Linked DNA regions of Homo sapiens: region 2 is linked to region 1. The links come from fine-mapping of genetic effects on gene expression. A gene starts in region 1. The other region holds a variant in brackets. All regions are shown on one strand. Distances are from middle to middle. Region 1 holds the start of PUF60 (poly(U) binding splicing factor 60). Region 2 overlaps PLEC (plectin).

The links. PIP is the estimated chance that this variant, and not a neighbour inherited with it, causes the effect.
Region 2: its variant is fine-mapped to the expression of PUF60 in whole blood (TOPMed, PIP 0.97).

The regions. Positions count from the first base shown.
Region 1 is chr8:143,827,356-143,832,667 of GRCh38, reverse strand. PUF60 (poly(U) binding splicing factor 60) reads left to right here and starts at 3,353. Exons shown (of 12, transcript NM_078480.3): 1 at 3,353-3,388. The coding sequence starts at 3,365. It overlaps LOC107986985 (a long non-coding RNA gene), which reads right to left and starts at 3,388. Exons shown (of 3, transcript XR_001746138.2): 1 at 3,264-3,388; 2 at 2,630-2,822; 3 at 737-1,959. It also overlaps a transcript of NRBP2 not described here. RefSeq lists enhancers at 2,062-3,261, 2,582-3,281 and a silencer at 3,066-3,635.
Region 2 is chr8:143,919,083-143,924,440 of GRCh38, reverse strand. PLEC (plectin) reads left to right here. Exons shown (of 32, transcript NM_201384.3): 31 at 1-1,937; 32 at 2,046-5,358. Among named protein-coding and RNA genes, the nearest start is that of PLEC, 18 kb to the left of the region's middle. The variant C/T (reference allele first, on the strand shown) is at 2,670.

The sequences.
Region 1 (5,312 bases):
TAAACGATTAAGTGCTGTGCTTTTAGATATGCATACACATAAACATCTCAATGCTTTACAAAGCAGTATTGCTGCCCGCAGGTCCCACCTCCAGCCCTAAGGCGGTTTTTCCCTATCTCAGTAGATGGAGCATGCAATCAGGTTTTATATGGAGACATTCCATTGCCCAGGGACGGGCAGGAGACAGATGCCTTCCTCTTGTCTCAACTGCAAGAGGCATTCCTTCCTCTTTTACTAATCCTCCTCAGCACAGACCCTTTACGGGTGTCGGGCTGGGGGACGGTCAGGTCTTTCCCATCCCACGAGGCCATATTTCAGACTATCACATGGGGAGAAACCTTGGACAATACCTGGCTTTCCTAGGCAGAGGTCCCTGCGGCCTTCCGCAGTTTTTGTGTCCCTGGGTACTTGAGATTAGGGAGTGGTGATGACTCTTAAGGAGCATGCTGCCTTCAAGCATCTGTTTAACAAAGCACATCTTGCACCGCCCTTAATCCATTCAACTCTGAGTTGACACAGCACATGTTTCAGAGAGCACGGGGTTGGGGGTAAGGTCATAGATTAACAGAGTCTCAAGGCAGAAGAATTTTCCTTAGTACAAAACAAAATGGAGTCTCCTATGTCTACTACTTTCTACACAGACACAGTAACAATCTGATCTCTCTTGCTTTTCCCCACAGTCTTTATGCTAACCTCACATATGCTTAACAGTGCGACTAGCTACAAAAAGCTTGGCTTGGTTGAAAATCATTTATTCCCAGGATTTCAAGGGTATTGTGTCATTTTCTTCTAGTTCCAAGAACTCTTGTGCCTTCCTGAATTCTGACTCTTTACCTATGATCTCTTCTTTTTCTTTGCCCCATTACTTGGGTAATTCTCAATGATGTGTCTTGATATACAACTTCCCTTTCACCCATTGTTCAGAAAACATGACTGTTTGGTTCTAGGAAATTTTCTTGATTTATCTCTGCTGATTTCTCTCATTTCCTTATTTTCTGGACAATTTATTTAGATGTTGGACTTCTGTTGAGTTTTTGTTGTTTTTTTGAGACAGGGTCTGGCTCTGTCACCCAGGCTGGAGTGCAGTGGTGTGATCACAGGGCACTGCAACCTCCACCTTCTGGGCTCCAGCAATCCTCCCACCTTAGCCTCTCTAGTAGCTAGGACTACAGGCGTGTGCCACCATGCCCAGCTGGTTTTTTAAAATTACTTTTTGTAGAGACGTGGCCTCACTATATTGCCCAAGCTGGTCTTGAACCCCTGGGCCCAAGTGATACTCCTGCCTCAGCCTCCTGAAGTGCTGGGAAGGCAGGCATGAGCCACTGTGCCTGACCTGGACTTCTCTTTTGAGATGCAGTCATGGTGGTGGCAAGAACACAGGCTCTGGAGCCATTCTACTGCTGCTCCCTGCCTTGTGATGTTGCCCATCAGTAAAAATGGGGTAACAGCTGTATCCATTGCATAGCACTGGGTTGTGAGGATCCCATGAATGAATGTGTGTAAGAACAGTCCTGGGCACCATGCATCCTGCGTGCACATTATTGCCAAGGGAAGCTGTCCCCAGAGGGTGGTGCCTGTGGCTTCCCCTGGTGGTGGTGGCAGACCAGCCCCCCACCTCCCATCCACCCCCTCCATTGTGGAGGCCTTGTGTGCCAGGCTAGCCCTAAGAGCACCCACCTGTGTTACTGCTATTCTGTTTTCCAGCTATCTGGTTCTGTCATTATACATTCTGGAAGACTTCATCTTAAAAGCCTATTGAATTGCTCACTTTCCCCTCATGTTTTATTTCTAAGAGCTCTTTCTCATCCCGAGGTTTCTTTCTCTATAGCCCCCAGTTCCTTTTTATTGACTGAGAATGGCATTTTAGTTTTCATTTTTCTTCGGCTTCCTTTATCGTCTCTGTTTCTTCTGAGTCCCTTTTCTTCTTTCTCAGGTGTCTGGTGATCCTGGGCTGTCCAGCTGCATTGAAGAGTGAGATGCTTTTAGTGGCTGGGGCTTATGACCTGGTGAGCTTCGAGGCCAGGGATCTGGCTGGGCCATTCTACTGGGCAACACTCTACCCCTAGGTGCCCTGCCAGTCTTTTCTTTTGAGCTAGGAGCTGCTGCAGAGAGGAGCCCTCTTCTCTGAGAAGCCTGATGGCATGCGGGTGGTCAGACCCAGCCCAGGGGTGGAGGCAGGGGTAGGACCCAGAGTCTCACTTACTCCCAGGCTTTCAGACAGGGCCTTGCTTGAGCAGGGCCTCAGAGCTCCTCTCCTGGAGCTCACGTCTCAGACACTGCAGTGCCTGCCAGCCCCGGTGGGTAGGGACAGAGGTCTGGGGTTTCCTTTCTGTAGCTGTGCTTTCACCCACGACCCTCAGACACTGGCCTCCATAGCCAAGTGGGCTGGAGTAGCTCTCGCTGTCCACCTTTCTTAAGCTCTGCAATATCCCAGCTCTTTGCCCTTGCAGGGTTTGTCTTTATAAAACCCCTTTCCTATAATTTTGGAAGGTTTCAGGAGGGAGGCGGGGAATATTCTGCCCTATTTAAGTAGAAGTGTCTGTATTAAATTCTAAATGTTCCCAGGGTTGAAAGGAGGCCTGCCCGGGATGCCTTGTGGCCTTAGGCAGCTGAAGGTGCCTGAGCTTACAGATGTGGCTTCTTCGGATGACCGAGTTGGGGTCTCGGGACTGGGTGCAGCAGATGGCAAATGTCCAGGACAGGCAGCTTTCCCAGCAGTACTGACAGACACCTTGGGCCATGAAAGCCAGTTCAGGGACTAACGGGGCCTGCGGGCTGCGGGTCTAGCGACTGATGTCAGCCAACCTAGGGTCATCGGTTCCCTGGAAGGAGAAAAAGCTGCCAATTGAACGGGGCCTCCCGGTCCCAGGGATGTCGCGACGCGGGGACGACGCATCTCACGACGTCAGCCTGAAACACGCGGGCCTTTCATCACCCGAGACTCCTCCAGCCCAGGAGGGCCCCGCTCTTTCGCCTGCCTCCTGGGGGAGAGCCTCTGGACGACGCACGCGACAGCGTTTTCTCCAAAAAAGGCAGAGAAGAGAAGCGTAGCAGTGGCCGCAAGGGCGACGGGCGGCGAAGGGTACTACGCACGCCCGCGTCGGCCACGCGGAGAGATACGCCCGACTCGAGTCCCGCGGCGCACGCCCCTAGACGCCCGAGGTGCGCGGGCCACGCCCCTCGCCCGGCCAAGAGCACGCCCCTTCCGTCGCCCCTCCCGGGGGCGTTTACCGTTCCTCCCCGCCCCGGAAGCGCGTTCTTACCTCCTTCCTCGCGAGAGTTCCGTGCACCGGCACCCAGATCGCGCGAGACAGCGGAAGGAGCAAGAGTGGGAGGCGCGCGCGGAGGCCGCGACGGACGCAAGATGGCGACGGCGACCATAGCTCTCGTAAGTGAGCCCCCCCATGAGCGCGGGCGGCCCTCGGCTTGCGGGGCCGGGTCGTCGACCCAGCCTGGGCGCGGAGGGCCTCCCAAGAACGCGGCGGTCTTCCCAGGTCCCGCGCGGACTCCCTCGTGTCCCCGGGTCGCGTGAGGCGGGGGCGGGGCGGGCGCGCGCCGGCGGCCGGCTCGCGGCCTCAGCTTCCGGCCTGCGGACCCCAGCTTCCGGCGGGGCGGGGCGGGGGCCTGGGCGCGGCGTGTGGCCCTTGCGGGCGAGCCTGGCGGGGTTGCGTTCCTGTCCGCTAGGTCCGGCAAGCGGGGGTCGTCGTCCTCCCTTTGCCGACGGGGGTGTGCGCCGTGGTCACGACGGAAGCGGGGTTCTGGGGGTGACGCGTGGGCCTTCGGGTTGATGGGATCAGAAGGGGACGGGACCTGTAGAAAGGGGCCTGCAGCTCAGAGCATGGGGCGGCCTTGGCTCACTACGCCTGCAGCTGTGAATTCGTTCTCCGGTGCTGGAGAGGGATCTGGTTATCTCCATTCTCTTGTCTCCACGTGGAAAGGAAGGACGTGCGCTCTCATCCTACGTGTTTTGAGAAATCGCATTGTCCCCAGCTCTGCGGGAGGATCTGGGGACGCAGTGGGGAACCAGACAGGCAGTTGGAGGTCTAGTGCGCACCAGAAGCCAGTTCCCACCCAGGGTGCCATTTGCTGGGCGCCCTAGGGAGCTGCGTGGGCATCCAGAGGAGTGAGTCGCCCCCTGCTCTGCTCAGTGCCCACTTCCCCGGGCAGGGCAGGCGTTATTAACGTAGAGGGAGAACACCCATGCACACAACACATGCACGATGAAGTCTGGTCTTTCCTTCTCACCACTTAGCTTATAGGACCTAATCCCCTTTTGGACCTTTCTCAGCCGCAGTTTACCCCTGTATTACTTGTCACCCTTCCCCCAGCCCACACCCAGCGGGATGGGATAAGGTCTGTTTGAGAAGACAGCTTGGGCAAATGGCTGAAGGCTGGACTGGCAGGACCAGGGAGTGTCCTTAGACTGCCATTGCCAGGCCCCCAGCGGGCGGGCTGGTCCCATGTCCCACTGAGGCAGAAACCAGTTACTAGGGGGAGAGAGGCATTTACACAAGATACCCAGCTTGCGAGGGCAGCCCAGTGTGTGATTCACAGGACTGGCTAACTCCACTCTTTCTACTATGTCCTTTCTCTTGAAGCCACAGGAGTAAGTGACCTTTGAGGGGCACTCCAGAGAGAAAGGATGTAAGGGTTGAGGACCTGGTGACTGTCTTCAGGCAGCAGTCAGAGAGTTGATGGTGAAGGAGGAGGAGGCTCAGAGACAAGGACTGGACATGGGAAGGTGGAGGAGGAGAGTGGATGCCTGACTCCCCTAGCACCCGCAGAACAGCGCCCTGTGCTCATGAGGGTTAAATGGGGGCTCAGGTCTGCTGTGGCGTGGTGCCAGATAGGTGGTGTCATTGTTGAGTTGGACGTGGGCCATAACTGACCCCACGAACGGGTTGTCTGTTGGGGTGTTTGTTGCCATCCAAATTCTGTTGGGTTTAATACGTGTTTTTTTATCGTCAGGTTTCAGGCTTGCATCCGGCTCCAGGAGTGAGCTGTAGCCTGTGGTCTAACCCATTCCTCTTTTAATCATTGGGATGGAAAGGCTTCTAGAAGGGTTATCTGTTCCCACCGTCCTGGTTGGGCACAGTGATGAGAGCCTGTCCCCTGTCTCATGCTGCTTCAGCTCTCATGGGAGGTTGAATGGAGCAGCTGAACTTGGCTGACAGTGGCCTGGTGGGGAAGGAAGCCAGAAGATGCAGAAGGGCCTCCCCTCCCATGGGCATGCCTTCTGCCTGGTGGCTGCAGAATGAGGCCGGCTGCCTCTTTGCAGCAAGGGTAGGTCTTCTGGATGCATCTTTTCACTT
Region 2 (5,358 bases), 92 kb before region 1:
AGGCGGAGCGGGTGCTTGCGGAGAAGCTGGCCGCCATCGGCGAGGCCACGCGGCTCAAGACGGAGGCGGAGATCGCGCTCAAGGAGAAGGAGGCGGAGAACGAGCGCCTGCGGCGGCTGGCGGAGGACGAGGCCTTCCAGCGGCGGCGGCTGGAGGAGCAGGCCGCGCAACACAAGGCTGACATCGAGGAGCGCCTGGCCCAGCTGCGCAAGGCATCGGACAGCGAGCTGGAGCGGCAGAAGGGGCTGGTGGAGGACACGCTGAGGCAGCGGCGGCAGGTGGAGGAGGAGATCCTGGCGCTGAAGGCGAGCTTCGAGAAGGCGGCCGCTGGCAAGGCGGAGCTGGAGCTGGAGCTGGGACGCATCCGCAGCAACGCGGAGGACACGCTGCGCAGCAAGGAGCAGGCCGAGCTGGAGGCTGCGAGGCAGCGGCAGCTGGCGGCGGAGGAGGAGCGGCGGCGCCGTGAGGCTGAGGAGCGCGTGCAGAAGAGCCTGGCGGCCGAGGAGGAGGCCGCACGGCAGCGGAAGGCGGCGCTGGAGGAAGTCGAGCGGCTGAAAGCCAAGGTGGAGGAGGCGCGGCGCCTGCGGGAGCGAGCGGAGCAGGAGTCGGCGCGGCAGCTGCAGCTGGCCCAGGAGGCCGCCCAGAAGCGGCTGCAGGCGGAAGAGAAGGCACACGCCTTCGCGGTGCAGCAGAAGGAGCAGGAGCTACAGCAGACGCTGCAGCAGGAGCAGAGCGTGCTGGACCAGCTGCGCGGCGAGGCGGAGGCGGCCCGGCGGGCGGCTGAGGAGGCGGAGGAGGCCCGGGTGCAGGCGGAGCGTGAGGCGGCGCAGTCCCGGCGGCAGGTGGAAGAGGCCGAGCGGCTGAAGCAGTCGGCAGAGGAGCAGGCACAGGCCCGGGCTCAGGCACAGGCGGCTGCAGAGAAGCTGCGCAAGGAGGCCGAGCAAGAGGCGGCGCGGCGGGCACAGGCGGAGCAGGCGGCCCTGCGGCAGAAGCAGGCAGCTGACGCGGAGATGGAGAAGCATAAGAAATTCGCCGAGCAGACGCTGCGGCAGAAGGCGCAGGTGGAGCAGGAGCTGACAACACTGCGGCTGCAGCTGGAGGAGACCGACCACCAGAAGAACCTGCTGGACGAGGAGCTGCAGCGGCTGAAGGCGGAGGCCACGGAGGCCGCACGCCAGCGCAGCCAGGTGGAGGAGGAGCTCTTCTCGGTGCGCGTGCAGATGGAGGAGCTGAGCAAGCTCAAGGCACGCATCGAGGCTGAGAACCGCGCACTCATCTTGCGTGACAAGGACAATACGCAGCGCTTCCTGCAGGAGGAGGCTGAGAAGATGAAGCAGGTGGCGGAGGAGGCCGCGCGGCTGAGTGTGGCGGCCCAAGAGGCTGCGCGACTGCGGCAGCTGGCAGAGGAGGACCTGGCACAGCAGCGGGCCTTGGCAGAGAAGATGCTCAAGGAGAAGATGCAGGCGGTGCAGGAGGCCACGCGACTCAAGGCTGAGGCGGAACTGCTGCAGCAGCAGAAGGAGCTTGCGCAGGAGCAGGCGCGGCGGCTGCAGGAGGACAAGGAGCAGATGGCGCAGCAGCTGGCGGAGGAGACGCAGGGCTTCCAGCGGACGCTGGAGGCCGAGCGGCAGCGGCAGCTGGAGATGAGCGCTGAGGCTGAGCGCCTCAAGCTGCGTGTGGCCGAGATGAGCCGAGCCCAGGCCCGCGCTGAGGAGGACGCCCAGCGCTTCCGGAAGCAGGCGGAGGAGATCGGTGAGAAGCTGCACCGCACGGAGCTCGCCACCCAGGAGAAGGTGACCCTGGTGCAGACACTGGAGATCCAGCGACAGCAGAGTGACCATGATGCCGAGCGCCTGCGGGAGGCCATCGCTGAGCTGGAGCGTGAGAAGGAGAAGCTCCAACAGGAGGCCAAACTGCTGCAGCTCAAGTCTGAGGAGGTACCGCCCCCTCTACGTGCGACGGGCGGGTGGGCCCGGGGATCTGCTTTGGTGGGTGATGGGTGCTCCTGGGCTGGCGGTCCCTGATCACACCCTCTTCTTCTGCAGATGCAGACGGTGCAGCAGGAGCAGCTGCTGCAGGAGACGCAGGCCCTGCAGCAAAGCTTCCTCTCTGAAAAGGACAGCCTGCTACAGCGGGAGCGCTTCATCGAGCAGGAGAAGGCCAAGCTGGAGCAGCTCTTCCAGGACGAGGTGGCCAAGGCACAGCAGCTGCGTGAGGAGCAGCAGCGGCAGCAGCAGCAGATGGAGCAGGAACGGCAGCGGCTGGTGGCCAGCATGGAGGAGGCGCGGCGGCGGCAGCATGAGGCCGAGGAGGGCGTGCGGCGCAAGCAGGAGGAGCTGCAGCAGCTGGAGCAGCAGCGGCGGCAGCAGGAGGAGCTGCTGGCTGAGGAGAACCAGAGGCTGCGTGAGCAGCTGCAGCTCCTGGAGGAGCAGCACCGGGCCGCGCTGGCGCACTCAGAGGAGGTCACTGCCTCGCAGGTGGCTGCCACAAAGACCCTGCCCAATGGCCGGGATGCACTTGATGGCCCCGCGGCAGAGGCAGAGCCGGAGCACAGCTTCGATGGCCTGCGGCGGAAGGTGTCAGCTCAGAGGCTGCAGGAGGCCGGCATCCTGAGTGCGGAGGAGCTGCAGCGGTTGGCGCAGGGCCACACCACGGTGGACGAGCTCGCA[C/T]GGCGGGAAGACGTGCGCCACTACCTGCAGGGCCGCAGCAGTATCGCAGGGCTGTTGCTGAAGGCCACCAATGAGAAGCTGAGTGTTTACGCCGCCCTGCAGAGGCAGCTGCTGAGTCCCGGCACGGCCCTCATCCTGCTGGAGGCGCAGGCGGCCTCAGGCTTCCTGCTGGACCCTGTGCGGAACCGGCGGCTGACCGTCAACGAGGCTGTGAAGGAGGGTGTGGTGGGCCCCGAGCTGCACCACAAGCTGCTGTCGGCCGAGCGCGCCGTCACTGGCTACAAGGACCCCTACACTGGCCAGCAGATCTCTCTCTTCCAAGCCATGCAGAAGGGCCTCATCGTCCGGGAGCACGGCATCCGCCTGCTGGAGGCCCAGATCGCCACGGGCGGCGTTATCGACCCCGTGCACAGCCACCGCGTGCCCGTGGACGTGGCCTACCGGCGCGGCTACTTCGACGAGGAGATGAACCGCGTCCTGGCGGACCCCAGCGACGACACCAAGGGCTTCTTTGACCCCAACACGCACGAGAACCTCACGTACCTGCAGCTACTGGAGCGCTGCGTGGAGGACCCCGAGACGGGCCTGTGCCTTCTGCCACTCACGGATAAGGCTGCCAAGGGCGGGGAGCTGGTCTACACTGACTCCGAGGCCCGGGACGTCTTTGAGAAGGCCACCGTGTCTGCGCCGTTCGGCAAGTTCCAGGGCAAGACGGTGACCATTTGGGAGATCATCAACTCGGAATACTTCACGGCAGAGCAGCGGCGGGACCTGCTGCGGCAGTTCCGCACGGGCCGGATCACAGTGGAGAAGATCATCAAGATCATCATCACGGTGGTGGAGGAGCAGGAGCAGAAGGGCCGGCTTTGCTTTGAGGGCCTGCGCAGCCTGGTGCCAGCCGCCGAGCTGCTGGAGAGCAGGGTCATCGACCGCGAGCTCTACCAGCAGCTGCAGCGAGGTGAGCGCTCTGTGCGAGACGTAGCCGAGGTGGACACTGTGCGGCGGGCTCTCCGGGGTGCCAACGTCATCGCGGGTGTATGGCTGGAGGAGGCGGGGCAGAAGCTGAGTATCTACAATGCCCTGAAGAAAGACCTGCTGCCATCCGACATGGCCGTGGCCCTGTTGGAAGCCCAGGCCGGCACCGGGCACATCATCGACCCCGCCACCAGCGCCCGGCTGACCGTGGACGAGGCAGTGCGTGCTGGCCTGGTGGGCCCCGAGTTTCATGAGAAGCTGCTATCAGCCGAGAAGGCTGTGACAGGGTACAGGGACCCCTACACAGGGCAGAGCGTCTCCCTGTTCCAGGCCCTGAAGAAGGGCCTCATTCCCCGGGAGCAGGGCCTGCGCCTGTTGGACGCCCAGCTGTCCACGGGCGGCATCGTGGACCCCAGCAAGAGCCACCGCGTGCCCCTGGATGTCGCCTGCGCCCGAGGCTGCCTGGATGAGGAGACCAGCAGGGCCCTGTCGGCACCAAGGGCCGACGCCAAGGCCTACAGTGACCCCAGCACAGGGGAGCCGGCCACCTACGGCGAGCTCCAGCAGCGGTGCCGGCCCGACCAGCTGACCGGGCTGAGCCTGCTGCCGCTCTCAGAAAAGGCTGCTCGGGCCCGGCAGGAGGAGCTCTACTCAGAGCTGCAGGCCCGTGAGACCTTTGAAAAGACCCCGGTTGAGGTCCCCGTGGGTGGCTTCAAGGGCAGGACGGTGACGGTGTGGGAGCTCATCAGCTCTGAGTACTTCACTGCGGAGCAGCGGCAGGAGCTGTTGCGTCAGTTCCGCACGGGCAAGGTCACCGTGGAGAAGGTCATCAAGATTCTCATTACCATCGTGGAGGAGGTGGAGACCCTGCGGCAGGAGAGGCTGTCCTTCAGCGGCCTCCGTGCCCCTGTGCCAGCCAGCGAGCTCCTGGCTTCCGGGGTCCTCAGCAGAGCCCAGTTTGAGCAGCTCAAGGACGGCAAGACGACGGTCAAGGACCTTTCGGAGCTGGGCTCCGTGCGGACGCTGCTGCAGGGCAGTGGCTGCCTCGCCGGCATCTACCTGGAGGACACCAAGGAGAAGGTGTCCATCTACGAGGCCATGCGCCGGGGCCTGCTGAGAGCCACAACGGCTGCGCTCCTGCTGGAGGCGCAGGCGGCCACTGGCTTCCTGGTGGACCCCGTGCGGAACCAGCGCCTGTATGTCCACGAGGCCGTGAAGGCGGGCGTGGTGGGCCCCGAGCTTCACGAGCAGCTGCTGTCTGCCGAGAAGGCCGTCACCGGCTACAGAGACCCCTACTCGGGCAGCACCATCTCCCTCTTCCAGGCCATGCAGAAGGGCCTGGTTCTCCGGCAGCACGGCATCCGCCTGCTGGAGGCCCAGATCGCCACGGGCGGCATCATCGACCCCGTGCACAGCCACCGCGTGCCTGTGGACGTGGCCTACCAGCGCGGCTACTTCAGTGAGGAGATGAACCGCGTCCTGGCGGACCCCAGCGACGACACCAAGGGCTTCTTTGACCCCAACACGCATGAGAACCTCACGTACAGGCAGCTGCTGGAGCGGTGCGTGGAGGACCCCGAGACGGGCTTGCGCCTTCTGCCACTGAAAGGGGCGGAGAAGGCTGAGGTGGTGGAGACCACGCAGGTGTACACTGAGGAGGAGACAAGAAGGGCATTTGAAGAGACACAGATCGACATTCCCGGCGGCGGCAGCC